Homo sapiens: one gene and its partners. The protein of the gene in region 7 interacts with the protein of the main gene of each other region in a pairwise test. Each region holds a gene or a part of one and is shown on either strand. Other genes may lie near its edges.

Region 1 (3,500 bases), on a different chromosome or scaffold from region 7:
TGGTGGGCACATTCCTACATGCAGATTATTTCCAGATCTCAATCTAGAAGGCAATCCTATTTCAGAATTTCCAGTTTAAAAGGCCTCAGCCTTGTACTATCTTCCCCCACAGCAGAGACTAGCAACTTTTAAAGGCTTGCAACTGAGCTGCAGGGCTTCCCCTAGGGCTGATGAGAGCTACTTATCACTACTGTGGTCAAAAACAAAAAAAAAATCGCTTCTATTTGCCAAGTACTGCCCCATTAGGCTTTGTTTTAAAATATCCATTTGCCTGCCTTAGCAGCCCATTTCTCTCATATACCTTGGCCACTTCAGGGACAGGATCTATTACACCATGAGGAAACTGTGGGGTAGAACAGACGAGCATGGCAGTGTTCCTGGAGATAGCTCTTCTCATTGCCTAGGGATTTAAAGTTTAAAGGAAAATGAGAATCTATGTCACAATTACTCTTCTCTTCTGCTGCCAAGAGCAATTTGGGCTGCTAGCTTAGAGTTCCAGTTCCACCAGTACCCCCTCCTTCACCACTCCAACTGGGAGAAGACTGCATCCCACCACGGTGACAGGACACAGGTGACTCCAGGTAAGTCCATTTGGAGAATAGTCTGAGAGCACAAAATAAGAACAGAATCGCTGTGGGGGCGAAAATAATATTGAGCTAAGAGGCCAAAGAGCCAAATGTGAGCCCCAGCCCCACAACGTACCAGCAGTGAAACCCTGAGTATGCTACTTCAGTCTGTTCCTTATCTGTGAACTACAATAATATAACAGCTTCATCAACCTCTCTGGAATGTCATAAAGCTCAAATGGGATTCTGACAGAACACTGAAACTAGAAAACTCCTCTACACAAATGTGAGGCATAAAAATAATCACTATCATAATGACAATGGTATTAATTTAAGCCAATCTAAACCACAGTGAGAGTCTTTTTTTTTTTTTTGAGACAGGGTCTTGCTCTGTCACCCAAGCTGGAGTACAGTGGTGTGAACACAGCTCACTGCAGCATCAACCTCCTGGGGCTCAAGTGATCCTCCCACCCCAGCCTCCCGAGTAGCTAGGACTACAGGTGCATGCCACCATGTCCAGCTACTTTTTTAAATTTTGTGTAGAGATGGGGTCTCACTATGTTGCTCAGACTGGTCGCAAACTCCTGGGCTCAAGGGTTCAAGTAATCCTCCCTCCTCGGCTTCCCAAAGTGCTGGGATTACAGATGTGAGCCACCATGCCCGGGCCATGGTAAGAGTCTTAGGGGAAGTGAGTCCATGTTCATTTTACAAATAGAGAAAAGAAAGAAAAAGTGATGGCGCTGACCGCAAAACCAGTGTCTCTCAAGTCCCAAGTTAGTGACTAGATCACCTCCCTTTCAGAATTCATGAACCTATGAAAAGACTGAAGCTGCAGTCAATCACCACTATCAATGCAGTTTTTCATATTCTGGCTGCCACAATCAAAGGCAGTCAGACCCATCTGACTGGAAACGGCTAGTCAACAGGAGGGCCCTTCTGCTGTCAGGGCCCAGCACAGACAGTGGGCCCTCCAGAGGGACTCACCCGCACATCCACCTCCATCATCTTCGTCAATGGGACCCGCACAATCTTCATCCCAAAGTAACTGGCTGCTTTGTTAAATGCAGCATGGGCACTTTGGGGAGCCACACTAAATGACAGGGAAGAGGAGAATAATGTAACTCAGGCCAAAATAATAGAAAACACCATTAGCAGCTAATCTAAATTACCGGGAGTAAGTTCTGATTATTTTTCCCCAAATTAAAAATTTAAGTGTTTAGACTGCTCTACTTTTCTTTTTAAGCACACCCAAAAAGAGGCCAACTGATTTTCTGCAGAAACTTCCCTCCTATTTAGGAAATCATTCTGGCAATAGGAAGAGGACTCAGAAGTGATCCCACAGTGAGGGATCCAAAGCATAAAGCTAGGCTGGCAGGCGGAAAGCTGGGGGACAGAGACTTTGGATGAGAGCAACACAAGGCAGAGCTGGCTAACGGTTGCCTACCAAAGACAGGCACCTCAGTGAGAATGAGAAGAAGGCTTCCCGGCACAACACATGTTCAAGCAGAAATGTTCACACAGCGGCCAAGCATCAGCTCAGTGGCCCCTTCCAACTCTGAAAGACAACAAACCTGAAGAAACTAAAATCCCCATTTCTCCTACACATTTGGAAATAGTATTTCAAATAGTGTTGAAAGAGAAAATGAGGTCACGGGTATTTGCTTTAGACTTTCCTCAACTACTCCATTCATACAACGAATCTGTTCCCTCTAAGGAGAAAAATCTCTACTACTGAGGAAGTACCAAGCACCAAAGATCGACATATGAAGAAAGAATGGCAGCCTGGTTTATTCTCTTATGCTACATATGAACCACAGCATGAGACCATATGCAATAAATCCCCATTGTCAAGTAATACTTGCAGTAAAAATATTAAGATGTAGGATAAACATACTGTACAAGGGGACAGTCTAGGAAAAAATAATGTAACTAAACATCAAATTTATGTCCAAGGAAGGCAATGTGGGTAAATCTCAAAAAGATATTTTTATTCTTCCTCCCAGAAAACAGCCCTCACACTAAAGTTTTCCCAGAGAGTACCCTGAGGCAGCCTATAATATTAAGTAACTTTCTAAGGTAAGCAGAACTAAAGTACCTAGAGAGGTTTCTTTAGGCTCCAAATAATTTGCAAATATCACAGGATTCAAAGATGTAGTCCTCAAACTCTCACTTTTGGAAAAAGGATCTTATTTTTGCTTGTAGTATATACTATGCATGATCTGGGGGTGGGGCGGGATGGGAATGATCTTTAAAAATAACTGGCTGATCCATTTAGAATTTTACTGAATGTAAAAGGATAAGGGCAGAGGGGCTAGGACAGGGGGAAAGGGGACCAGAATTACCAGAGGAAGAGAAGCAGCAGGAAAATGGATTATCTGCTTTAGTTTCATAAAGCTGTACTCCAGACAGACAAATCCAAAAGGGGACAAAACAGCCACACATACATACATTTCTGGAGTTTTGATCCCCTTCTCAAAGGCCAGATCCCGATATGCTTTGCAGGCCATCAGTATGCTTTCTGTTCCCCCAGAAGTCACCTATAATAAAGAAGAGATGCCATCTGTTGGGGGAGTCAGGAATGCCCCGGCTCTTCATGCCCTGATCTTGACAATGTTTGATACAGAAACAGATAAGGTCTTGGATGCATGCTGCAAGGCAGACACTGCCATGTCTTCCAGAAGGAAAATTTGGCTTTATTGGCTAAGCCTAATTTTGGCTCAGGTGAAGAATGAAAGCTACTAAATAATGAGCAGAAACTCAGCACTGCCTAGACAAATGCACACTTGGCCAGATCCCACCTATTCACAATCCATTTACATTTCTGTATTAATTTTTCAATTTTCAGATAAGATAGGGCATTTTATGCCATTCAAAAATATCAGAATTTTAATTTAAATTTTCAATACCTGTTAAAGAATGTGAAATTGTGATTAC
Region 2 (3,500 bases), on a different chromosome or scaffold from region 7:
AGGCTGCAGTGAGCTATGCTCACACCACAACACTCCAGCTTTGGGGACAGAAGGAGGCCCTGTCTCTAAAAATAAAAAAAGGAACCTTATAATATACCTTACTCTGCAACTTGTTTGCTTTTTTTCCCACTTCATCTATCACAGACATCCTCTCAGACCAATACATTTAAACTTATTCTTTTAAAGAACTGCGAAATATGCCATAATCTAAATATGCCATAATTTCTTCAATCACTTCATTAACCATAGGTCAGTTGCTTTTAGTTTTTTGCCATTATAAATAATGTTATAATAAACACTCTCATACATACTTCACTTGAAATGATTCTTTTCTTTCTGTGAATTCCCAAGGTGGAATTGCTATGTAAAAGTCTGTGTTTTTTGTTTTAATATATACTTTCAGACTACTTTCCAAAAAGATTGCTACATTTCACAATCTTGCCTACTCCGGATGTGATCAGTCCCTTCTAATTGTCATGCCAGCATTGAAAAATTGATCTCACTCTTGTTACACTCTTATTTTTTTTTTTTATTTTTTTTTTTTAGCTGGAGCTCACTCTGTCACCCAGTCTGGAGTGCAGTGGCCTGATCTTGACTCACTGCAAGCTCCGCCTCCCAGGTTCAAGCAATTCTCTCTGCCCCAGCCTCTGGAATAGGTGGGATTACAGGTACCCGCCACCACACCAGGCTAATTTTTTTTTTTTTTTTAATTTTTAGTAGAGATGGGTTTTACCATGTTGGCCAAGCTGGTCTCGAACTCCGGACCTCAGGTGATCCACCCACCTTGGCCTCCCAAAGTGTTGGGATTACAGGCGTGAGCCACTGCACCCAGCCGACACTCTGGATTCTATCAGGTTGTGCTTTCTTTCATGTCAAGTGGCTTCTTCTGTGTCCTCCTCTCTAAACAATCTTGCTTGTCAGACTTCTTCTCAACTTGTAGGAGTTCTTTTAAAATTAGGGCTCATATTACCATGAATAATACAAGTATTTTTTCCAAGCATGGTGTATATCTTTGACTTTGCTTATGACTTGCCATAATTAACATTTATATAGTCAGAGCTGTTTTTTTAATGGCTTCTGAGTTTCTTATCTTAAAGACCTACCCTGATCCGAGGGCATTCAAATATTGTCTTCTACTTTTTACTTTTATGCTTATATTTTCAACTGACTTAAAATTTATATTTTGCATGGTAACAGGTATGAGACTAATCCATTTTTTCTATTAATATATTGAGATGCAAGTGTGTCAATATAATCTACTAAAATAAACCATTTTCCACTATACTGAAGTGTCACCTTTATCATTTATTAAATGCCCAAGTGTACACAAAATATTTTCTGGAAATTCTCTTCTAGCTCATTGATAAATAACTTTCTTTTTTCCTGAACAAATACTAGACTAATTACAGTGTTCTCATATATGGTAGGGCAAATACCTCCACATAAATTTCCCTTTTCAAACTTGTCTTAGCAGTTCTTGCTTATATTTTATTCCATATGAAACCCAAAATTATTTTATCCTATTAAGAATGCTTACTTTAAGCAAAGATTTCTTCCTGACTAGTAGGCAATTTAAAAGAAAAAAAGCAGTTTGCCACAGCTCTCAAACCTCTGTATCCACAAAGAGGCTGTTTAGAAAGTTTTTTCCAAATTCTTAGTCTATGATAGTGCTACATTCCTTGACTCTCCATATTACTAAGTCCTGAATGGAATTCCATATTATATCACTTTACTCTTGAACTTCTGGAGAACCAGCACAACATTTCTCTACTGAATGGCTTTGGCTCAAACAGCAGAAAGGTAAGACTCATGATTATGGGAAGCAAAGTGAGATTTATATCCGACTGATTCTATATCCTTGATTACCTATGTGATTGCTTCCATGTTTATACAATTTTCAAGCCCATGGTGATCATGATATTGGTCAAGGATGGCAAGAGGTTATCCTGGTGCTCTGCCAACTGTTACAAATACCAGCAAAGGTGGAAAAGCACACAGTGAATGCCTGTGAGTACAGTGGAAAGTCACGCCTTGTATTTTTAGCCATGAAATTCCAATGTAGCATAAACAGAGGATGTGGCTAAGTAAGTCTCTTGACTTTTCATGTATAGGAAAATTTTTGGCAAAATCTAACTTCAGTATAACAAGATTCCACTTGCATTGAGAAGAATAGCATCATCATCTCCAAACTATTACAGAAAATAATGAGACATATTCAGCAAGTCTAGACAAACAGGTCAGTCTTGAACCCTCCCTTAAAGCAGGGAAATTACATATATACACATTACATTAAAATGCAGTGTCAATAACATTTTGCAATTGGAGATTAAGTTATTATAAATTGTTTTAATTTCAAAAATCCCATAAAATCAGGAACTCTGACCCTCAAAACTATGAAAGTATACACTTGCTTTCCGACTGAAAGAAATAAAAAATTATCCAGCTAACCAGATGGACACGGAGTGAGCTATAAGATCATACCAACAGATTTGACCCTAGAATAGAGCGTAAGGCCCGATTTTCCATCCCTCAATATAAATGTTACCCTTGTCTGCTGCCTTCCAATAATAATGAGTATTTATTGAGCACTATGTGCTAGGTGTTATGTCTCATGCTTTTATATACATTTTCTCTTTTCATCTACATAATAACTCTATGTGTGAGTATTATTTTCATTGTATAGATAAGGAAATTAAAGTACATAGAGACATGGAAGCTTGCATGAAGTCTCATGAATTCAGTCTCCGTTCTGTCTCCAAAGCCTTAAATGCAAAGGACCTTCAGTTTTCCACCAAGACATGTCAGATAGACCTGAACAATTTGAAGTTCTATTTCCAGGTTCTCTACTGAAGGACTAAGAACTTCTTTAAAGTTCAAAGGTCAAAGTTGGCCACTGAGCTCCACAGGCTCCAACACCACCAGTGGTCAGAATCCTTTGTCTGCAGCTGAGGACATAAATACATCCTTACGGAAGAATGGACCTCTTGTATATATCAAAAGTTCTCAAACAAAGATAGTGGGAGGCCAGGCGTAAGTGGCCCACACCTGTAATCCCAGCACTTTGGAAACCCTAGGTGGGAGGATTGCTTGAGCCCAGGAGTTCAAGACCAGCCTGGGCAACATAGTGAGACCTCATCTCTGTAATAAAAAATAAAAAATTAGCTGGGTATGATGGCGCATGCCTATAGTCCCAGCTGCGCTGCTCAGAAGGCTGAGGTGAGAGGATCACTTGACCCCAGAAGGCCAAGACTTCAGTGAGCCATGATTGTACCACTGCACTCCAGTCTGATGACAGAGTCTAAGACCCTGTCTCAAAAAAAAAAAAAAGAAAAGAAAAGAAAAGAAAAGAAAAGACAAGACAGTGGGAGCTGTCCTGAGTTGCATCAATAAATGGACACCTCTTTTCTTTCTTTCTTTCTTTCTTTCTTTCTTTCTTTCTTTCTTTCTTTCTTTCTTTCTTTCTTTCTTTCTTTCTTTCTTTCTTTCTTTCTTTTTTTTTT
Region 3 (3,500 bases), on a different chromosome or scaffold from region 7:
AGGCTGAGGTGGGCGGATCACAAGGTCAGGAGATCGAGACCATCCTGGCTAACACAGTGAAACCCTGTCTCTACTAAAAAATAAAATAAAAATTAGCTGGGCGTGGTGGCGGGCGCCTGTAGTCCCGGCTACTCGGGAGGCTGAGGCAGGAGAATGGCGTGAACCCGGGAGGCGGAGCTAGCAGTGAGCGAGATTGCGCCACTGCACTCCAGCCTGGGCGACAGAGCGAGACTCTGTCTCAAAAAAAACGAAAAAAAAAAGAAAAACACTGGAAGTATATAACTTTTAAAGTTCTTTGCCACTAGTTTAAATTTTTAAGAAACTTCAATTTTTATTGATGTATACAGCAAACAATGCAATTCATTGCAATTAAGCTTTAATACTAACTCAATACTGGCTTTAAATCAGCAAAATTGAAAATATACGTTTCTTCAAAACAGGCCCTTATAGATAAAAATATAAATACAAAGTTAAAACAACCTGTAATATTACATTTAAATTGCAGCTATCAACATAAATTCATAATTTAAAAACTTTTTATTAGGGAACTTTTTAACCTTGTACAGAAAGAACTGGATAATAAACAGCAGCTGGGTTTCATCTTTACCCCTCAACTATCTCCCCCCAACCATCCAGGAATGCTTTCAAAGTAAATCCTACTTTTTCAGGAAATAGTATGTATCTCTAAGAGGTACTCCTTAATCTTTTTAGTATTCACAATATTATCCCAATTAAAAAACGTTCCTTTATTTCATCAAATATTTAGCTTTCAGATTTCCATGATGGTATTATGATTTTGTTTGTTTACATGTCATTTACAGTTTGGCAGCATGAAGAGACTCCCACTGGTCAATTTTGGTGTAATTTAAACAGTAAGGCATAATCACTGTCATTCATTTCAATATACTGAATATACAAAAATCTATGAAAATGATAATTTGCCACAACTGCATGGGACTATTATATTGATTTTTTACTTTGAAAATTGCTAATTAAATAAAAAGAACTGAGCATTTATCCTACCTTTTTTAGGAAGAACTGTAATCATCCCCAGTTGATGAGGAGAAGCTCTTCTGTAGAGAAGAATGACAGCTAATAAACACAAAAGAAAAGTAAAAGTAATTAGAAAATCATGCCACGCACGATGTCTCACACCTGTAATCCCAGCACTTTGGGAGGCCAAGGCGAGAGGATCACTTAAGGCCAGGAGTTTGAGACCAGCCCGGGACACACAGCAAGACCCAGTCTCTACAAAAAATAAATTAGCCAGGTGTGTTGACACGCAACTGTACTCCCAGCTACTGGGGAGGCTGAGGAAGGAGGTTCACTTGAGCCCAGGAGGTTGAGGCTGCAGTGAGCTCTGATCACACCACTGCACTCCAGTCTGGACAACAGAGCAAGACCCTGTTTCAAAAAAAAAAAAAGAAAATCACCATTTTTCCAACCCCAACGAAACTACTGATTCAGGCAGGATGCAAGAGAGCTGATGCCAAAGGGTCACAAACAGATTACTTTCAGACTGAGAGGGAAAAGCACACTCTGCTGAGGGTAGACAGCTGTCTGTCATCCTAAGCCAACGTCAGACTCAGCATCTCCAACAGTGGAACAACCTGCCATCCTTGCCACATCTCTGGATGGGAAGCTACCCAAAGTGCATGGCACCTTCTATTAAGCAGCTTTGCCAAAAAGGTTTGACCTGAACCTGATGCAGGGTCTAGCTTCCAGTTTCCAGGGGATACAAGGGCCAGACTCAGAGAAACAATAGAAGATGCCACAAGGAAACAATCTGACAAATCCAGATGGAACAAGACACCTGGTTAGTGTCTAAAAAAGCCAATGCCATTGGGAATGAAAAGGGAAGAGGGAAGCTATTCTTGAGTGAAAAAAAAAATCAAGGAGACATAATTTTGCTGAAAAGAAATGTTGGGAATGAGGGGAAAATCTGAATAGGGACTAGGTATTAGATACTATTAGAGACGTATTGTTAATTTTCTTTTTTCTTTTTTTTTTGAGACAGGTTCTCACTCTGTCACCCAGACTGGAGTGCAGTGGGGCAATCTCGGCTCACTGCAACCTCCGCCTCCCAGGTTCAAGTGATTCTCCTGCTTCAGCCTCCCAAGTAGCCGGGATTACAGGTGTGCACCACTACCGCCTGGCTAATTTTTGTATTTTTAGTAGAGATGGGGTTTTACCATGTTGGCCAGGCTGGTCTCGATCTCCTGACCTCAAATGATCCACCTGCCTTGGCCTCCTGAAGTGTTGGGATTACGGGCGTGAGCCACGGCACCCGCCTGTTAATTTTCTTAGGTGTGAAAATGGAATTCTTAAGAAACAAATGCTGAAGTATTTAGGATAGTGTCATGACATCTATCACTTGCTTTGAAACCATACAGCAGAAAATATAAACAATGCACTTACGGCAGCATTTGCTAAATCTAGGTTATGGTTATACGGGTGTTCAATAATTAATACATTTTTAAAGAACAAATCAATAGCCTAGAGGGAGGAATGGTTCACTGGTAATGCCAATGTAACTATTCTAGTCTGTGTAAGTTCTAAATTTCACTGTAATTTAATACATTGACATTCTGGCTTTGTACATAATTTTAAAAAATATTCCCTTTATTCGTTTCAAGCCTATATCTAAGTGACCCATAAATAAGGAACTTTATAAACTTAAAATTCTGATTTTTTTGTAATGCATAGTGCCTTTATTTCTTCATTTAGTTTTCCTTAAACTCAGGTCTAAAAGTCTCATCATAAATGGTGATGGGGGCGGATGGGAAGGAGGCTGGCATAAAAAAAGTACACATTAGGTACAATGTATACGATTCGGGTGATGGTGCACTAAAATCTCAGAATTCACCACTATATAATTCGTCCATGTAATGAAAAACCACTTGCAGTCCAAAAGCTACTGAAATAAAAATTTTAGAAGAATAAAACAAATGGTGATGGTTTCAGTTTGAGGCAGAACTTGTACAATTTTTTGCTAGTGAACGGTTAAAAGTTAACTGGTCTACAATGGGGTGGTGTTTCTCAGAAACCACGGCCTGTCGGCATCACCTGGGGATGCTTTTCAAAACACAGATGTTTCCTCTTCCCTATCCTGTTCAGAACCAGTGGGTTAGGCCAAAAAAAAAAAAAAAAAGATGAACTTTAAGAAAAAGAGTAAGAAAACACTATAAGTGGGGTCAAGGGTAGTTTGAGCTAGGATGCCTGAGACTACCCCTAACCTTTCAAAGTTGAATAAAAATAGGAAGCCATGTTCTCTGATGAAAATCTCTGATGCCTCTGTGAGGTAAACAACACTAGGCTGAAGAGGCCAGGAGACTAACTCAAAATAGAAACAAACGCTTACGTTCTTATGATAATCCTGTTGCATTTGCTGCACTCACTCCCACAACTATACTCTCCGAGACAGCCACAATATTCTAAAAACCAATTATCTTAATGTCAATTACTTATAATGCATAACTTTATAGTATGATATCCATTTT
Region 4 (3,500 bases), on a different chromosome or scaffold from region 7:
ATCCTCCCACCTCAGCCTCCTGAGTAGAAGGGACCACAGGCATGTGCCACTACACCTGGCTAACTTTTAAAAAATTTTTTTGTAGAGATGGGGTTGCCCAGGCAGGTCTCAAACTGCTGGGCTCAAGCAATCCTCCTGCATTGGCCTCCCAAAGTGCTGGAATTATGGGCATAAGCCACTACGCCTGACCTCTCCAAGGGCATTCTTTACCCAGAAGAGGAACTTGGCAGAACTTATCCTCCAATTGGTGAGGAATATGGAGAAAATGACTTTAAGCAAAGGAACTTCTGGTTCTGCCTACCTAATCCAGAAAAAGAAGTTTTATTTCTCCCTTCCCCTAGTAACTATCTTCCCATATTCACATAAAAAAGTACAGAATCAACATTGTTCAAGAATTATAATTTTACTTGTAAGCACATGTGCACACGCACACCCATATACCTTCCTTCCCTTTAAATCATCCCACACCCTAATAGTAGTAAAATCATTGACCCGAGCATACCTGGGAGAGGAAGAGGAGTCTGACAGGGGCAGGTTCTAAGTGGCACTCCTGGAACTTAACCCTGGTGTATATGAACTTTACCTATTGAAGGATGACTCCTCAACTGTTCTCACAATTTGCTGCTCTGCTTTCTTTTCTAATTTCTGAAGGTGACTCATCTTCCCCAAGGACTTTCAGACTTCTCAGAAGAAAAAAATATTGGGTGGGTCTCTGCCACTGGCAAAAGATTAGACTTTGAGAATCATAAAAGTATATCAGTATATACTCATTAATATTGAATTACTATAATTAATATTATGATATTGATATAATGATAGAATGATATTGATAAAAGCAATATTCAATAATGAATATTATTTCAGCTGCCCACTTATTGGGTGCCTCATAGGTGCCAGGCATTTTGTATGTATTATCTACAACCCTTACATGGGACATATTATGATGCTGTTTCTCTTGAAGAAATATGGAAACTGGAAACAGAGAGGTCACCACAATTTTCCAAAGTCACATAGCTAATAGGTAGCAGACTTGGGATTCAAATTCATATGCATATGGTAAATCATGCTCTTCCTCTGCTACATTTTGCCCCCTTAGAATATGAAAAAGGGATACAAAGAGATGAAGAAAATATGTAAGATTATCCTTCAATTTCACTATCTTTTTTAAAGTTTTTTTTATTATACTTTAAATTCTGAAATACATGTGCAGAACATGCAGGTTTGTTACATAGGTATACACGTGCCATGATGGTTTGTTGCACCCATCAACCTGTCATCTACATTAGGTATTTTTCCTAATGCTATCCCTCCCCTAGTCCCCCACCCACCGACAAGCCCCGGTGTGTGATATTCCCCTCCCTGTGTCCATGTGTTCTCATTGTTCAACTCCCACTTATGAGTGAGAACATGCGGTGTTTGGTTTTCTGTTCCTGCGTCAGTTTGCTGAGAATGATGGTTTCCAGCTTCATTCATGTTCCTGCAAAAGGCATGAACTCATTTTATGGCTGCATACCATTCTATGGTATACATGTGCCACATTTTCTTAATCTAGTCTATCATTGATGGGCATTTGGCTTAGTTCCAAGTCCTTGCTATTGTGAACAGTGCTGCAATAAACATATGTGGGCATATGTCTTTATAGTAGAATGATTTATAATCCTTTGGGTATAGACCCAGTAATGGGATTGCTGGGTCAAATGGCATTTCTGGTTCTAGGTCCTTCAGGAATTGCCACACTGTCTTCCACAATAGCTGAACTAGTTTACACTCCCACCAACAGTGTAAAAGCGTTCCTATTTCTCCACATCCTCTCCAACATCTGTTGCTTCCTGACTTTTTAATGATTGCCATTCTAATTGGAGTGAGATGGTATCTCAGTGTGGTTTTGATTAGCATTTCTTTAATGACAAGTGATGATGAGCTTTTTTTCATGTTTGTTGGCCGTATAAATGTCTTCTTTTGAGAAGTGTCCGTTCATATCCTTTGCCCACTTTTTAACGGGGTTTTTTCTTGTAAATTTGTTTAACTTCCTTGTAGATTCTGGATATTAGTCCTTTGTCAGATGGGTAGATTGCAAAAATTTTCTTCCATTCTGCAGGTTGCCCGTTCACTCTGATAATAGTTTCTTTTGCTGCGCAGAAGTTTTTTTAGTTTAATTAGATCCCATTTGTCAATTTTGGCTTTTGTTGCCATTGCTTTTGGTGTTTAGTCATGAAGTCTTTGCCCACGCCTATGTCCTGAATGGTAATGCCTAGGTTTTCTTCTAGGATTTTTATGGTTTTAGGTCTTATGTTTAAATCTTTAATCCATCTTGAGTTAATTTTTGTATAAGGTATAAGGAAGGGGTCCAGTTTAGTTTTCTGCATATGGCTAGCCAGTTTTCCCAACACCATTTATTAAATAGGGAATCCTTTCCCCGTTGCTTGTTTTTGTCAGGTTTGTCAAAGAGCAGATGGTTGTAGATGTGTGGCATTATTTCTGAGGCCTCTGTTCTGTTTCATTGGTCTCTGTATCTGTTTTGATACAAGTACCATGCTGTTTTGGTTACTGTAGACTTGTAGTATAATTTGAAGTCAGGTAGCGTAATACCTCCAGTTTTGTTCTTTTTGCTTAGGATTGTCTTGACTATTCAGGCTCTTTTTTGGTTCCATATGAAATTTAAAGTAGTTTTTTCTAATTCTGTGAAGAAAGTCAATGGTAGCTTGATGGGAAAAGCATTGAATCTATAAGTTACTTTGGGCAGTATGGCCATTTTCATGATATTAATTCTTCCTATCCGTGAGCATGGAATGTTTTTCCATTTGTTTGTGTCCTTTCTTATTTCCTTGAGCAGTAGTTTGTAGTTCTCCTTGAAGAGGTCCATCACATCCCTTGTAAGTTGTATTCCTAGGTATTTTGTTCTCTTTGTAGCAATTGTGAATGGAAGTTCACTCATAAGTTTGCTCTCTGTTTGTCTGTTATTGGTGTATAGGAATGCTTGTGATTTTTGCACATTGATTTTGTATCCTGAGACTTTGCCGAAGTTGCTTATCAGCTTAAGGAGATTTTGGGCTGAGACGACAGGGTTTTCTAAATATACAATCATCTCATCTGCAAACAGAGACAATTTGACTTCCTCTCTTCCTATTTGAATACGCTTTATTTCTTTCTCTTGCCTGTTTGCCCTGGCCAGAACTTCCAATACTGTGTTGAATAGGAGTGTTCACCACCTATTTTAAGAATAGTATTGAAGCCTCACAAAAGCTGGTTCTCATGTAACCATCTGAGAATATTTGGCCTTATGACTTGAATTCATTCATTGCCTTTTTATTTCACATTTTAGTGATCCTGATGTCTAAATCTTAATCTTTGATCCTTGCAAGGTAAAATAGCCAAGTCAAGCCTGTTTAATAATATTGGTTGAGGAAGTCACATGCTTATGATCAATCTTTGGGTTATGTAATTATATTACCTTAATGTTGGCAGTTTAGGTGTAAGGCAGAGATATCTGATCACATGTG
Region 5 (3,500 bases), on a different chromosome or scaffold from region 7:
TCAAAAAAAAAAAAAAAAAAAAAAAAAAGAACCCGTGAAATACTTTGGAATAAATCTGACAAAATATGTGCAAGACTTAAACACCAAAAACTACAAAATACAATTTAAAGATTTAAAGATTTTGAAGAAGATTTTAAAAATAGATATTATGTTCTTGGATTAGAAAACTCAATATTGTTGATATGTCAATACTCCCCAATTGCTCTATAGATTCAGTGCAATCCCAACCAAACTTCCAGCAGACTTTTAAAAATGGAGTCTTTATTATTAACTACTTCACTATATTGCATTCTTTTTAAACTGTGTTTCCTTTAGTTAGAATAGTCTTCAGCAAAGTTTGGGCAGAGACAGTAGATTTGGTAGAGAAAATGAATCACTCTCTTTTTATAGACTGGGTAGGAAAATAACAGAGGAAATAACTGTTCTCCCCAGGGATGGAGAGTTTCCATGCCAATTTTCACAACTGAAAGATGCTCCATAATAATAGCTCTATTGGGCCAGGCATGGTGGCTCATGACTGTAATCCCAGCACTTTGGGAGGCCGAGACAGGAGGATAACTTGAGGTCAGGAGTTCGAGTCCAGCCTGGCCAACATGGGGAAACCTGTCTCTATCAAAAAATACAAAAATTAGCTGGGTGTAGTGTGGCAGCACACACCTATAATCCCAGTTACTTGGGGGTCTGAGGCATGAGAATTGCTTGAACCCAGGAGGCGGAGGTTGCAGTGAGCCAAGATCATGCCACTGCAACCACCGCAATCCAGCCAGGGTGACAGAGTGAGACTCTGTCTAAAAAAAAAAAAAGCAAAAAAAAAAGCTCTATTGGTGTTTTAGTATTTGGGTGTTCTGTGCTGTACTTACTTCTGTAGTCTCAGAAAGATATTGATATACGATGGAACAAAAATCATTTTCTTATTGGTAAGTATTCCATCTATCAGACTTCTTACGACTTCATCTGTCTCCAATACAGGCCATAATCTGTGATTAAAAAGAGGAAAATATTATTTTTATTTTCTAAAATTTTAATTTTATAAGTAAATGATGGCAGGAAAATTATCCTATATTTTTACTAAATTTAGAATGAAGATTTAAAATATTCCAGGATTTGCTGCATTAATGCCACCCTACCCACTTCCTCCACATCCCATGTTGATGTTTTGTTATCAGAAACTTATACTTTCATATCCAGTAGGTGTGTTTCATAGCTCACTTAGTCAAAATATCAAAATGGTGGCGAGGCATTAGATGGTAAGGAGTAGTGGAGCCAGACAAGAAAGAGGAATGGCTAGGATTAATCATGGGACAGGAAGGAAACATCTGACATCTCAAAGCCTGTTGGATGCAAGGAGAAAATTCTATAGCTAAGTATACTTTCTTTCTTGTGGAGGTATTCCATAAAGCTGGATTGTTTTGAGGTCGTCATTTTGTCAGAGGCGTTTAAATCAGAGCAACTCCATCTTGAATAGGGTCTGGGTAAAATAAGGCTGACACCTACTGGGCTGCATTCCCAGGAAGTTAAGGCATTCTTTGTCACAGGATGAGATAGGAGGTTGGCACAAGATTCAGGTCATAAAGACCTTGTTGATAAAATAGGGTGCAGTAAAGAAGCCGGCCAAAACCCACCAAAACCAAGATGGTGATGAAAGTGACCTCTGGTTGTCCTCACTGCTCATTATAAGCTAACTATAATACATTAGCAAGCTAAGAGACACTTCCACCAGCACTATGACAGTTTACAAATACCATGGCAATGGCAGGAAGTTACCCTATATGGCCTAAAAAGGGGAGGAAATCTCAGTTCTGGGAATTGCTCACCCTTTTCCCGGAAAACTCATGAATAATCCACCCCTTGTTTAGCATATAATCAAGAAGTAACTCTAAATACCCTTGGTGGAGCAGCTCAAGCCATTCTTCTCCATGGAGTAGCTGTTCTCTACTCCTTTACTTTCCTAATAAACTTGCTTTTGCTTTGCACTGTGGCCTTGCCCCGAATTATTTCTTGCGAGAAATCTAAGAACCCTCTCTTGGGGTCTGGATTGGAACCCCTTTCCGGTAAGAATTTCGTATTTGAGATTCACCTCTGACTTGCCTATCCTGCAGTTTAATGAGAATTTAAGAGGGGCCCAAGGAGTATGACAACTGGAGGTATGTCATACTTCCAGTTTTCCTTATACTGAAGGCTGTGTACATGTACTCTTGAGAAATATTCATAAACATAGGCTTAGTGTAGAATTGTCTGTTAGTGCAAGATGATGACAGAAAAATGGATTTAAAATGTTGTATTCAAATTAAGATGTCCAGGCATGGACTGAACAGCCAGTGAATGTAAAGGCTGGGTGAGGAGTTAGGGAGCCAGCGAATGTTAAAACTTCATTCCCTGGGATGATCTGTGGTTTGCTGCAGATTATTATGTGATTGAGTTCTCCACTGCCTTGAATAGCAAGCCAACAGAGAGTAATACAAATCAATACATTTCTAAATTACTCCGTTCTGCCCTTTCTCTCCCTGATTTCATCTACATGGATCCAACAACCCAGCCTCGGAGCCAAGTGTGACATTACATATCAATGCCTTAGCCCTTACTAAGGAAATTCACAATCTAGCAACCTCTATAAAATCAATCCCAAATATTTAGCATTGCCTGTGTCTACCTCTAAGTTAGCCCCCAGGAACCCTGTACCCAGAGTTCCATTATCCTTACTCCCCTCATCTATCATGCCTTCCCCAAGAGTGGCAGGATACCCTTAGGAAAGCTCATGGTACACGAAGCCTGAATGCCTACCAAGAGGGTTTTTATTGGGCCCAATTCCTTGTCTAAGAAAACAATCAGGAGTTGCAATAGTACTATAGTATTTACTTACATATTGCATACTTATTAAGTACTGTGAGACAACGTAGCAAATGTAAGAAGCCACGTTTACTCACTTCTGGTTGTCAGCATAATTTCACAAAGTCCCTGACTCTGTGACAATGTGCAGCTCTCTGGAAAGATGCTTTGAAGACAATACAGGATAGAGCACATGGCCCCCACTATCAGAACAGTTCAACTGAACCTCTCTAAAGGGCTGCTCTCAGGCTATAGGCCTCCGACTGTAGTCTTCAGTAAGGCTTCTAAATAAAATTAACACCTTTAATTCTTTTTTTTTTTTTTTTTTTTTTTTTTTTTGAGACGGAGTCTCGCTCTGTCGCCCAGGCTGGAGTGCAGTGGCGCGATCTCGGCTCACTGCAAGCTCCGCCTCCCGGGTTCACGCCATTCTCCTGCCTCAGCCTCCCGCGCAGCTGGGACTACAGGCGCCCGCCACCACGCCCGGCTAATTTTTTTGTGTTTTTTAGTAGAGACGGGGTTTCACTGTGTTAGCCAGGATGACCTTTAATTCTTTAAAAACTTATTTTTTTGGCCGGGCATGGTGGCTCACTCCTGTAATCCCAGCATTTTAGGAGGCCAAGGCAGGTAGGACACCTGAGGTCAGGAGTTTGAGACCAGCCTGGCCAACATGGTGA
Region 6 (3,500 bases), on a different chromosome or scaffold from region 7:
CAGGAGTTTGAGACCACCCTGGGTAACATGACAAAACTGCAACTCTACAAAAAATACAAAAATTAGCTGGGCCTGCTCGTGCGCGCCTGTACTCTCAGCTACTTGGGAGGCTGAGGTGGGAGGATCGCCTGAGCCTGGGGAGGTCGAGGCTCCACTGAGCCGTGATCATGCCACTGCACTCCAGCCTGAGCAACAGAGAGAGAGACCATGTGTCCAAAAAAAAAAAAAAAAAGGAAAATTTGACACACGGCACACATGGACAAACCTTGAGGACATTATGCAAGATGAAATAAGTCAATCACAAAAAGATAAGGATGAATATGGTATGATTCCATATATATGAGGTATCTAAAGTAAGTCAAACACATAGAAACAAAGGAGAATGGTGGTTGTCAGGGAATGGGAGGATGGCAAAAAATGGAGTTGTTGTTTCATGGGTATAGAATTTGTTTTGAAAGAAGAAGTAGTTCTGGAAATTGGCTGCAGAACAATGTGAATATACTTACACTACTGAAGTCTACACTTAAGAATGGTTAAGATGGTAACTTCTTTGCTATGTGTATTTTACCACAATTAAACAATTTTTTAAAAATCAACCGTATTTCTATATGCTGGCAACAAACAATTGTGAATTTAAATTTTAAAAAATTACATTTATGTAATGATACCATTTACAATAACGTCAAGAAATATGAAACGGAATAATCTGACAAAAGATGGGAAAGACATGTCAACTGAAAACTACAAAACTCAGCTGAAAGAAATTACAGATCTAAAATAAATGGAGAGATACTACATTCATGCATCAGAAGACTTGATCAATTCTTTCCAAACAGATCTTCACGGCAAAAGAATACCAATAACAATCCCAAAAGGCTTTCTTGTGGAAATTGCCAGGCTAATTCTAAAATGCAAAGACCCAGAATCACTAAAACGACTTTAAAAAATAACAAGATTGGGGGACTGTTAGTTTTCAAGTCTTATGAACCTCCAGTAATCAAGACTGCAGGGTACTGATGTAAAGACAAATAGATCAAAGGAACAGAATAAAGAGTTCAGAGACTGACTAATATATGGACAATTGATTTTTGACAAAGATGCAAAAGTAGACCAGGCATGGTGGCTCACACCCATAATCCCAGCACTCTGGGAGGCCAAGATGGGTGGATAACGAGGTCAGGAGTTCGAGACCAGCCTGGCCAACATGGTAAAACCCTGTCTCTATTAAAAATACAAAAATTAGCCAGGTGTGGTGGCGTGCGCCTGTAATCCCAGCTACTCAGGAGGCTGAGGCAGGAGAATCGCTTGAACCTGGGAAGTGGAGGTTGCAGTGAGCCGAGATTGCGCCACTGCACTCTAGCATGGGCGATGGGACAAGACGCCATCTCAAAAAAAAAAAAAAAAAAAGATGTAAAAGCTATTCAATGAATAAAAACATATTTTTCAGCAAATGAACAACTGTTCATAAACAAATAATTTCCATCCTTATTTTGCACCATATAAAAATGTAATCAAAATTAAACACAAACCCAATTGTAAAATCTAAAACTATAAAGCTTCCATAAACATAGAAGGAAGGCCAAGCACAATGACTCACGCCTGTAATCCCAGACTTTGGGAGGCCGAGGCAGGTGGATCACGAGGTCAGGAGATTGAGACCATCCTGGCTAGCGCGGTGAAACCCCGCCTCTACTAAAACTGCAACTCTACTAAAAATACAAAAAATTAGCCAGGCGTGGTGGCGGATGCCTGTAGTCCCAGCTACTCGGGAGGCTGAGGCAGGAGAATCGCTGGAACCCGGGAGGCAGAGATTGCAGTGAGCTGGAGATTGCAGTGGGCAGAGATTGTGCCACTACACTCCAGCCTGGGCGACAAAGAAAGAGACTCCGTCTAAAAAAAAAAGAAAAAATAGAAGGAAATTCCTATGATTTGGGATTAGGCAACAATTTCTTAAATATGAAACCAAAACCCTGATCTATAAAAGAGCAAATTGATAAATTTCATCAAAATTTAAAATTCCTGTTCTTCAAGACACTGCTGAGAGAATGAAAAGATGGACCACGGCCTAGAGAGAATGTATTTGCAAATCATTTGACGAGGGACTTGCATCCCAAATATGTAACGAATTCTCAAAACTCAATTACAAGAAAACAACCAACCAACAACAACAACAAAAAATAGGCAAAAGACAAGAACAGACACTTTGCCAAAAGGGATATACAGAAGACATATAAGTTTAGGGAAGTTGGGCACATGGCTCACACCTGTAATCCCAGCACTTTGCGAGGCTGAGGCAGGTGGACGACTTGAATCCAGGAGTTCAAGACCAGTCTGGGCAACATAGTAAGACCCCATCTCTATAAAAAATTAAAAAATTAGCTGGGTATGGTGGCATATGCCTGTAGTCCCAGTTACTCGAGAGGCTGAGGTGGGAGAATTACCTGCGCCCAGGAGGTCAAGGCTGCAATGAGCCAAGATCACGCCACCGCACTCCAGCCTGGGCAACCAAAGTGAGACTCTGCCGGAGGAGGAAAAAAAAAAAAACTTATGGAAAGATACTGAATGCCACTAGCCATAGGGAAGCACAAATTAAAAGAACAATGAGACATCACTAAAGACCAATTGGAAGGGCTAAAATTGGCCAGGTGTTGGTAAGGATATGGATGAACTAGAATTATCATACAGTGCTAGCTGCAATGTACAACTGTACAATTACTTTTAAAATAATTAGTTTGGCAATTTATTTTATTTTATTATTTTTTTAAAGACGGAGTCTTACCATGTTGCCCAGGCTGGTCTCAAATCCCTGGGCTCAGGCAATCCTCCTGCCTCGGCCTCCCAAAGTGCTGGGATTACACGCATGAGCCACCATGCCCAGCCAACAGTTTCTTAAAAAGTTAAATACATCTACCATATGACCCAGCCATTTCACTCCTATTTACTTTTAAAAAAGTGTATTCTGTACAAAGATTGGCACACAGATGTTCACAGCAGCTTTATTTGTAATAGCCAAAAACTGGTGAGAAGCCGAAAGTCCATCAACAAGGGAATGTACAAATCGTGGTTCATCCACAAATGGACTACTACTCAGTAATTAAAAAGAATGAACTACCGATTTACATAACACTGATAAATCTCAAAATAATTTATGCTGAACTTTTTAAAAGCCAAAGAGGAGAATATGCTGTATTTATAAAATAACAAAAAAAAAAAAAAGCTAGAAAATTCAAACCAGCTGGGGGCAGTAGCTCACGCCTGTAATCCCAGCACTTTGGGAGGCCGAGGCGGGCGGATGGTCTGAGGTCGGGAGTTTGAGACCAGCCTGACCAACATGGAGAAACCCCGTCTCTACTAAAAATACAAAATTAGCCTGGCATGGTGGCGCATGCCTGTAATCCCAACTACTTGGGAGGCTGAGGCAGGAGAATCACTTGAACCCAGGAGGCGGAGATTGTGGTGAGCCGTTATCACGCCATTGCACTCCAGCCTGGGCAACAAGA
Region 7 (3,500 bases):
TATGTTTTCCCCATGCCATTAGCATTTTACATGTAGCTCTTACATTTGCAAATATTAGAGTGAACACACATGCTTTAGTTTAAAAAATATTTATTATAGAAATGTACATTTAATTAGTTTTAAGGAATGTACCTGACCACAGTGTTAATATATATTTCTTCAAATTTGCAAACTTTACACCTTTAAGATATCTACAAAGATGATAGTTTATTTACAAGTTTTACAAGAAATGATCACTTCACAATACTGTTGACACAGTTACGATTGAATCTTCTTCTCACTTTTTATTTCACTCTGTACTTATAGAAAGAACAGAGAGTATGGGTGAAGTTCCATCCCAGTGCCAGGGAAAGCCCGTAGAGCAGAATCAGAGGTGCAAATGGATACAGAAGAATTACTGTATTTTTCAAAAATGGCAATGCTGGAAAAGAAAGGAATCCAAACTGATTTAAAAAAAAAAAAAAATAAATGACTAATAAATGAACATTTTGAAAGACAGCTTACTTCAACATGTGGGGTGGAAGGGAATGCATATTTTGAATCAGTAAGATGATGCTATTTATGCCCAGAACTAGACTACTCTTCCCAACCCCTCTGTGCTGTTTCCTCCTTGTCTAGGGCTGGGAAGAAACCTAGGAGAGGAATTATTTCAGCACAGAGGCTGAGTGGGACATCATACACTGGACCAAGAGAGGTTAACAATGAGGGAGAAATGTCACAAATATTCATGAAAACAGTGGTGAATTTAAACTTGTGACTGCCTCAGAAACCTCTAGGAGTCCAACTTAAAGTACAGAGATGGATGGCGTTATAGGAAAACATCTTTTAGCTATTTGAGATTTTCCAGTGTAAAGCATTATACCCCCACTTTAAGAGGGTGTGAGCTCAACTAGTAGCCCAGGCTTCAGAAAAGAACTGAAACTCTTAAATATAAAAGTCTGGCTCCAAATATTGATGTTTCTTGCTCACTGCTTAGTTAGCGGGACCCTACCCCATGCATCCCGACCTAAGTATTTCTCATATAGGAAGTTCTTAAACAAACTGAGCTGTACTCCAACTATTCTAAGTGGTATAGGTCGTTACCAGGAGTGTTCAAATAACCACTTAGAGAAACCACAGTGCTGCAGTGTTCTCATCACAAAACACTTTCAAAATTCATTAGAAATGACACAAACATCTCCCCTGGACTAGAGAAAGCACTCCCCAAACAAGGCATTACAATGAAGGGGTTAAGTGTTCCCTGACAAACCAGCCAAGGGGGGAGAGAACCGGGGTGGGAATAACTCCGGAGCCAGGCATAGTCAGAGCCATCTGTATTTACAGTTAGGCCCTAATCATCTACAGTAACAGGAAAGGAAGGGGTAAGAAACGTACAGCGCAGTCTCTAGATTTTATTTGGCTTTATTTAATGGGATCATTTCTTAACATAAATGAAAAATAATATATGTTCCTCATTCATATTAAGAAAAATGAACTGACAACAGGATTTAACAGTAAATCTGCAAACATGTCCTGAGGACAATAAATGTTGGGCCCGATCTTCTGTGATTGTCTACAGAACCATACGGTAATCATGAAAACTAAGAATGGGGCAAAAAGTTATGATTCAAAAGGCTTTAGAGAACTTCAGTTCATAGACCTATGTAACAAGATGCTGGGCCCCACCTTTCTTCGCTCTACCCTCCTGCTGGTAACCCACAACCTGAAAGCATGGGAGAAGAGGAGTGAATGGTCTTGGATTCCTGCAAGTCATCTGGAGATAACCAGTATGGTTTAACATGTTTCCTTGAAAGTATAAAATCTGTTATATACCAGCTAGGCCATTTTCTAGCTGCATGACCATGGGTAAGTTGCTTAATCTCTCTGCCTCAGTTTCCTCATTTGAAAACAGAAACAAACCTGTGTAATTGTCATGAAGATTAAATGAGATAATGCACATAAAATACTTAGGATAGTGCCTGTAAGTGTTCCATAAAAGCAGCTGTTTGTACTACTGTTACAACTTTCCCCCTCTTGCTATGTTCTCAACCAAAAACATTTAAAAAAATTACTTACCACTGTATCCCAGGAAAGTTACATAGATATAATAGCCAACTGCAACCAACCATAAGGTATTTCCAACTAAATATCCAATAAATGTGTCTGTCAGGATAACATCTGCCAGAAGAGACGCAGACCATGAGTCCCTTTACCAATGCATGCAATGAAGACTTGGATAATACTCTAATTAACTGCTACTTACGGTTGATGAAAAAAAGCTGGATAAAATGCAAAATGACCAGGAGTGGATAAAAAGCATTGAGATGCACATCAAAAGCATAGCCCCATTCCACATCATAGTCTCTGCTCTGTCGTTTCACTAAATACTTGTTAGAGATGAACCTAAGAGCAAAATTAAAATTTCTTTCATAATAAAATGAATTCTGTAAATGTTTACTGACGACTTTCTATGCGGCAGACATTCTAAATTCTGGAGATATACCAGTAAACAAAACAGACAAAAATCCCTGCCTTCCATCTAGGAAGGAAGGCTGACAATGATACACCTATGTCAGATGGTATTATGGAAAGAGAGAAAGCAGCAGAGAAATGTGGAGAATACAAACTTGAGATGCAATTGTACATATGAGGGTCATAAAGTAACATTTGGGTAAAGACCCAAGGATAGTGATGGTGCCTGGCAGGCCTGAGGAATGGTGAAAAGACCAGTGTCTGAAAGAAAAGGAGCAAGAAATGAAGCCAGAAAAGAAACAGGGTTGGGCCCAACATCAAGTCACACAGGCTCCATGTCTTACGAAGCCTGTGGCCGTTTTACAATCTTTGGCTTTTATTCCTGGTGACGTGAGAAGCCACTGTGGAGTTCTGAGAAAAGTATTTGACTTAAATGCCTTGACAGAGCCTCCCTGGTGGCGGATCTGAGAACAGACTCCAGAGACAAGACTGGCAGCAGAGACCAGTTAGAAGGCTACTGCAAGGAAGAGATGAGCAGAGGGGCTGGTGGCAGTGGAGGTGCTAAGATGTGGCACACACGATACTCTGAAGGTAGAGCTCCTGACATTATTGGATTGGAGTATGAGAAAAAAATACTCAAGGATGACTGAGAGATTTCTGCCTTGAACAAATGGAAGATGGAGCTGCCTTTAATTGAGGTGGGGCTGGCTGTGGGAAGAGTGGTTTTGAGGTGGGAAGGAGTGTGCGGAAGTTTGAATTTGGACCTGTTATGTTGAAGATGCCAACTAGTATGGAGTAAGAAGTTGTATACAATGTCTAGAGTTTAGAAGACAAGTCCAAACTGGAAATATAAACTCATCAGTGTGTAGATGATATTAATATTTAAAGCCACGGGCCTGAATGATGTCACCAAAAAAATGAATGTGGATAATGAACAGGCCCAAGGCCCAAGACCTGGGTCAACCCCCTATTAAAAGGAGGATGAAATAGTAAGAAGCAGTTAGGAAGAGTGACGCATCCAGCCATAAGAACAATTATTCAAGTGTATG

The links.
Region 1: the proteins of UNC50 (region 7) and SGPL1 interact in binary tests that used the Homo sapiens proteins (3 or more experiments, as listed by UniProt).
Region 2: the proteins of UNC50 (region 7) and SLC10A6 interact in binary tests that used the Homo sapiens proteins (3 or more experiments, as listed by UniProt).
Region 3: the proteins of UNC50 (region 7) and MTIF3 interact in binary tests that used the Homo sapiens proteins (3 or more experiments, as listed by UniProt).
Region 4: the proteins of UNC50 (region 7) and CLRN1 interact in binary tests that used the Homo sapiens proteins (3 or more experiments, as listed by UniProt).
Region 5: the proteins of UNC50 (region 7) and HSD17B13 interact in binary tests that used the Homo sapiens proteins (3 or more experiments, as listed by UniProt).
Region 6: the proteins of UNC50 (region 7) and SLC71A2 interact in binary tests that used the Homo sapiens proteins (3 or more experiments, as listed by UniProt).

Annotation. Positions count from the first base shown.
Region 1 is NC_000010.11:70,867,948-70,871,447, reverse strand, and holds part of SGPL1 (sphingosine-1-phosphate lyase 1), read right to left. Parts: intron 3,104-3,500; coding exon 3,015-3,103; intron 1,657-3,014; coding exon 1,551-1,656; intron 401-1,550; coding exon 302-400; intron 1-301. UniProt on the Homo sapiens protein: Cleaves phosphorylated sphingoid bases (PSBs), such as sphingosine-1-phosphate, into fatty aldehydes and phosphoethanolamine. Elevates stress-induced ceramide production and apoptosis.
Region 2 is NC_000004.12:86,839,385-86,842,884, forward strand, and holds part of SLC10A6 (sodium-dependent organic anion transporter), read right to left. Parts: intron 1-3,500. UniProt on the Homo sapiens protein: Transports sulfoconjugated steroid hormones from the extracellular compartment into the cytosol in a sodium-dependent manner without hydrolysis.
Region 3 is NC_000013.11:27,444,065-27,447,564, forward strand, and holds part of MTIF3 (translation initiation factor IF-3, mitochondrial), read right to left. Parts: intron 1,093-3,500; 5' UTR 1,024-1,092; intron 1-1,023. UniProt on the Homo sapiens protein: IF-3 binds to the 28S ribosomal subunit and shifts the equilibrium between 55S ribosomes and their 39S and 28S subunits in favor of the free subunits, thus enhancing the availability of 28S subunits on which protein synthesis initiation begins.
Region 4 is NC_000003.12:150,962,728-150,966,227, reverse strand, and holds part of CLRN1 (clarin-1), read left to right. Parts: intron 1-3,500. UniProt on the Homo sapiens protein: May have a role in the excitatory ribbon synapse junctions between hair cells and cochlear ganglion cells and presumably also in analogous synapses within the retina.
Region 5 is NC_000004.12:87,309,383-87,312,882, forward strand, and holds part of HSD17B13 (17-beta-hydroxysteroid dehydrogenase 13 isoform A precursor), read right to left. Parts: intron 978-3,500; coding exon 861-977; intron 1-860. UniProt on the Homo sapiens protein: Plays a pivotal role in hepatic lipid metabolism. In vitro, it catalyzes the oxidation of a variety of lipid substrates, including 17beta-estradiol, retinol, retinal, and leukotriene B4.
Region 6 is NC_000009.12:94,381,069-94,384,568, reverse strand, and holds part of SLC71A2 (hippocampus abundant transcript-like protein 1), read right to left. Parts: intron 1-3,500.
Region 7 is NC_000002.12:98,615,089-98,618,588, reverse strand, and holds the end of UNC50 (protein unc-50 homolog), read right to left. Parts: intron 2,383-3,500; coding exon 2,243-2,382; intron 2,158-2,242; coding exon 2,056-2,157; intron 444-2,055; coding exon of another isoform or gene 422-443; coding exon 285-421; 3' UTR 74-284; downstream 1-73. UniProt on the Homo sapiens protein: Involved in the cell surface expression of neuronal nicotinic receptors. Binds RNA.